Regions from separate parts of the Homo sapiens genome. Here region 2 is linked to region 1. A link means that fine-mapping ties the variant in region 1 to the expression of a gene that starts in the linked region. Tissue or cell type: whole blood. Region 1 holds a variant in brackets; the other region holds the start of a gene. All regions are shown on one strand. Distances are between the middles of the regions.

What was found. PIP is the estimated chance that this variant, and not a neighbour inherited with it, causes the effect.
Region 2: AMMECR1L starts here. The variant in region 1 is fine-mapped to the expression of AMMECR1L in whole blood (TOPMed, PIP above 0.99).

What each region holds. Positions count from the first base shown.
Region 1 is chr2:127,797,140-127,799,819 of GRCh38, forward strand. All of the region lies in intron 1 of WDR33 (WD repeat domain 33), which reads right to left. It also overlaps the pseudogene RNY4P7. Among named protein-coding and RNA genes, the nearest start is that of WDR33, 13 kb to the right of the region's middle. The variant G/A (reference allele first, on the strand shown) is at 995.
Region 2 is chr2:127,884,470-127,887,149 of GRCh38, forward strand. AMMECR1L (AMMECR1 like) reads right to left here and starts at 1,487. Exons shown (of 8, transcript NM_001199140.2): 1 at 1,341-1,487. LOC107985944 (a long non-coding RNA gene) reads left to right here and starts at 2,649. Exons shown (of 2, transcript XR_001739707.2): 1 at 2,649-2,680. It also overlaps the pseudogene LOC107985803. RefSeq lists enhancers at 1,358-1,953, 1,738-1,817, 1,828-2,087 and silencers at 1,378-1,427, 1,438-1,607, 2,318-2,367.

The sequences.
Region 1 (2,680 bases):
TTCCTATTTTATACCTTTTAGCTACAAAATATAACTGATAAATGTTAGCTCTCTCTCAAAGACATTAAACCAGGCCAGGCGCAGTGGCTCGTGTCTGTAATCCCAGAACTTTGGGAGGCTGAGGTAGGCAGATCATGAGGTCAGAAGTTCGATACCAGCCTGGCCAACATGGTGAAACCCCGTCTCTACTAAAAATACAAAAATTAGCTGGGCGTGGTGGCGCACACCTGTAATCCCAGCTACTTAGGAGGCTGAGGCAGGAGAATCACTTGAACCCAGGAGGCAGAGGTTGCAGTCAGCCAAGATCACACCACTGCACTCCACCCTGGGTGACAGAACAAGACTACGTCACACACAAAAAAAGATATTAAGCCAAAAAACCCCTCCAAGCTATATTATGAAATGTTTTAGTGGCTTTTTTTGTAAAAGTGGGAACACTAAACTGGTATTCAGGTGACCTGAATTCTGCCACTCTGTAATTATGAACAAATTTAATCTCTCCAGTGTTGTTTATCTTCAAATTAAAGGGTCTAGATTTGATGATCTCTAGAGGCAAAATAATTTCATAATTTCAAGATCACAAGCCAACAGGCCAGGCACGGTGGTTCAAGCCTGTAATCCCAACACTTCGGGAGGCTGAGGAAGGTGGATCACCCGAGCTCAGAAGTTCGAGACCAGTCTGGGCAACATGGCAAAACCCTGTCTCTACCAAAAACACAAAAACTTAGCCGGGCATGGTGGTACACAACTGTGGGTCCCAGCTACTCAGGGGGCTGAAGCAGGAGGACTGCTTGAGCCCAGGAAGTCGAGGTTCCAGTAAGCCAAGATGACACCACTGCACTTCAACCTGGTGACAGAGTGAGACCCCATCTCAAAAGATTATGTAGAAAGCAGGTAGGAAATTTCCAAAATTCCTTTCTTAAACCTTGCTTAACAAATGAATTTAAGCCGGGCGTGGTGGCTCATGTCTGTAATCCCAGCACTCTGGGAGGCC[G/A]AGGCAGGTGGATCACCTGAGATCAGGAGTTCAAGACCAGCCTGGCCAACATGGTGAAACCCTGTCTCTACTGAAAATACAAAATTTAGCCGGGCATGGTGGCACATGCCTGTAATCCCAGCTACCAGGGGGGCTGAGGCAGGAGGATCGCTTGAACCTGGGAAACAGAGGTTGCAGTGAGCCAAGATCGTGCCACTGCACTCCAGCCTAGGCAACAGGGCGAGACACCGTCGCAAAAAAAAAAAAAAAAAAAAAAAAAAAATGAATTTAAAAGCATTTAACAAAATAGGAAAAGACAATCATTCCCAAAGGAACAATCCTAAAGAGCTGGTTGGCCCTGAATATTTCAAATCTGTCAATAGCAAGATAAAATGATAAGCTTAAGCTTTTATGAGCCTCTTGATTTCAGAACTATGGTTCTCAGGTTCTAGTTCTACTATCTACACAGACCTAAAAGCCTAACCAGTTAACTAGTTCCTCAGTATATCTGGAATTTATGATGTCTTTTAATTACCTTATGACACATACCATCTTAACAGTTTGATATTTCCCTCCAAACAAGTCAGTTTAGATTTCAAAAAAAACAGTGTTATTAGAGATACGATGAACTGAAAGTTAAACAAATATCTAAAAAAGTCGTGAAAAAAAATTCACCAATGAAACCTGTCCTTAATTTTTACTTGAACCTCCCTCTACTAAGTAAAATTTAAGTTATTGAAAACTGCTTTTATTAGACCAAAACTAAAGCTTATAGCTTTCTTTTTTTTTTTTTAAGCCAGTCAAATTTAGCAGTTGGGGGTTGTATATCAACTTCAGTGACACTAATGTTAATGAGTTCTGATAACCCACTACCATCGGACCAGCCAAAAGCTTATAGCTTTCTAACCACAAGGTCAAACTCACTATAGCTGCTTTCTAATAAAAAAGTCAAACTCATATTCACATTTATACCAATGGAGGAGAATCTACATTCTCAAATGAGAAAAATCAGTTGCTTAACCAATTGCCAACTGCATTAAATACAGAGAATACATTCAGGACCTTGGGTTAGGCAAAGCTGCCTTAGATGTAATACCAATGCACAATAAACAAAAGAAAAAGTAGGTAAATTGGACATAATCAAAATTGGAAACTTCTTTGCTTCAATGACACCATAAAAAAATCAAAACACTGTCTTCCTACACATGACTTGGGAAAAAAAGTTAAAAAAAGGAAAACAAATCCACAAAAAGGGTAAAAATTTCTGCAAATCATGTATCCGATGAGACTTGCATCCAGAATACACGAAGAACTCTTAAAACTCAATAATAACAAGAAATAACCCAATTTCTTAAATGGGCAAAGAATGTGAATAGTTATTTCTCCAAAGAAGATATACAGGCTGGACACGGTGGCTCACGCCTGTAATCCCAGCACTTTGGGAGGCCAAGGCAGGTGGATCACTTGGGGTCAGGAGTTTAAGACCAGCCTGCGCAACATGGCGAAACCCCATATCTACTAAAAATACAAAAATTAGCCGGACATGGTGGCAGGCACCTGTAATCCCAGCTACTCAGGAGGCTGAAGCAGGAGAATCGCATCAATAGAAAAATGCAAAACAAAACCACGATGAGCACCAGGAACAGTGGTTCCAGCTACTCGAACCACCTCCTGCTGGAGTTCAGGCAGGAGGACTGCTTGAGCCCA
Region 2 (2,680 bases), 87 kb after region 1:
GCAAACTCTAAATCTGAGGCAGCCGTGAAGTCCCATGCCCTGAATCATCTCATCCTTAGCGTCATCAGCAAGAAGGGAGGACACTGAGAATCAAAGGTTTTATTTATTGAACTCGAGCATGAGACGCACATTAAAACTTCCCCACCACAGATGCAGAGCAAAAGTTGCTCTCAGGCCAGAAGAGACCATTTAAAAGCTCTCCGCCGGTTTCAGAACACAAATAAATTTCCCAATCCTCTGCAAAGACAGAACTGAAGAATTACTGGACAGCACGCCAGAGGCAGGGACCTGAGGGCAGGCCATCTTGCTATGCCGGGAGGAGACGGTCACTGTTGCTAAGGGTCATCCATCCTTAGTCTCGAAGAAATCTCTTCCTGATCTCTTCACCAACTCTCCCCACTACTAGAGAATTGAGCTACTCCCAAAGATGTAAGTAAACAGGAGACTGTTTACATCTCCTGTGGGTGGGAGAGGCCCCACCCACTCTATCCTAGGAGAGGGCAGTGAAAGAGGATAAGGCCCAGAGGGATAAGGGTGAGGGAGCATGGCAAGGAGAGGAGTTCAGATCAGGACAGGGAATGTAGGAGGGCAAGGAGTGAAGGGCACAACCCACAGCCTGGGAAAGAGAGGCATGAAACCCAGCGTGTCAGGTGGACGGATCATGGAATGGGGGGCCAGCGGAGGTTAAGGAAGGAGGGCCCAAGAGTAGGGGTGCGAAAAAGAGAAGAGGAGGAGGAGAAAGTGCGCGTGTGAAGAGTGTTAAGAAAACGACAGGACAGAGCGGGGAGGGGAAAAGCGGGCCGAGGGACAGGGTGAAAGGTGAGAAACGAGGGTATGAGGAAAGAGGGTCCGGGGCGCTGGGGAGTTGGGGAGACGATGGAGCGACGGGTAGAGCAGCTTGGGCCGAGCCGCGGGGGTGGAATCCAGACGCCGGGCGGGGGAGGGGGCGGCGGGGCGGCGGGACGGTGGGTGGGGGCCACCAGGCGGCGCCGGAGACCACCAAACTTTACAGCGAGCGAGCCTGCTTCCTGGAGGGAGTGCAGACAAGGACCAGGAGCGGGAGCCGAGCCTCGCGGCCCGGGGCACGGCGCCGCCCGCCCCTCCCCGGCAGTGCCTCCCGACCCCCTGCCCTCCGCTGGGACATGGCCTGAGGCCCCGCCCGCCGCCCGGGACTCCTCCCCCCCGCTGCCCCCGGACCCTCGCCCCAGGACCGCGGGGTCTCTTCCCGGCCCCGCCGCCCGCCCCGGCGAGAACAGGCCCGGCGGGCAAGGCGGCGGCGGACCGAGGGAGGCCTGGCCCGGCAGCGGGGAGAAGGGTGCGGCGCAGCCCGAGTTTCCCACCTTTTCTCCTGGCCCAGACGCGGCTGGGGCGGACGGGACCTCTCGCGCTCTGCCTCCTCCTCTTGCTTCATGGAGCCATGCGCCTGGGTGGGGGCTCCCGAGAGAAGCTGGCCTGCGGGCGGGCCGGACGCGCTGCGCGGACGGGGCGGGGCGAAGGAGGCCGGCGGGCGGAGGAGGAAGCGGCGGGGCGGCGGCGGCGGCGGCGGCCGGGAAGAACTAGAGGTATTCCCCGGGCGGCTGGAGGACTGAGTCGAGCCGGGACCCGAGTCCTCCGGTATCCCAGCAGCCACCGGAGGCAGTGAGGTAATGGAGGAAGAATGTAGGGAGTCCTCCAGTGGACCACACTCCTTCTAGCGAGCCGCGGAAACCATAGAGATCAGGGCTCAGCCGGAGGGCCGGCCCACTGCTGTCACGTGGCCTCCATCCGTGCGCTTTATTGGCTGGTGCTGGCTTTACGGGGTTGAATTTTGGACGCTGCCTGCCATTCGTGGGACCGAGTTTCAGGCAGCTGGAATAAAGAGAGACATCGGGGGAAAGCCGCGAGAAGGCCAGCGTCCCTGGCTGGGAGCAGAGCTAGCCGAGTAGGGCGCCCGGCTGTCAAAACTGGCCGGCGCAGTGCACGCTGGGCCGCCCCGGAGCGGTCGCAGAGCCCGTCGGGAGTCGTAGTCCGGGACGGGCCCGCAGCATTGTCCGCGACGCAGCTCGGGATCCGCGTCGGGTTGTCGGCCGGGTTGCTGCCAGGCACCGTCGAGCGTTAGCCACCCAGCATTGAGCTGCCAGCGGCTGTTCTCCCTAAGCACCCTCGCTCACGTCGCCTCGCCTCGCCTCGCCTGACCGGCCGCAGCCTTGGATACCAGCCTTAAATCGAGCCGACTACGGCCCAGCCCCGCCCGCGGCGAAGTGCGCGGGGTTCGGTGCCAGCCGCTCGCCCCTGGCCGGGCCAGCCTCTTGATGCACCGGGGACGGGCGCGCCCATCCGACTCTTCGAGGGGCGGCAGGGCCCCATCTGTGTCTTTCGCTCTCGAGCCCCCAGCTAGAGTTGGCTTCAGCGGAATACCTACTGTGCAGGATTATTCAACAAGCCGATTGATCACATTCTTCAGCTCTAGCAGTGCAAAGGCTTCACTGAAAAAGAACATTACAAATTTTTTTTGAAAGAAATTTGGGGGTAAATTTAATTTTAAATACTGATTTTTGATAACATTTGATCTTATGACAGCATTTGTATTTTTAATTACAGATAGGATTACACTAAAAGTCATTTCTGACCTGCTCCCTTACCCTTATGGCTAAAATAAACTGCTAGGCCCTGAAGCAAAGGCGAGCCATGTTCTAGAGCA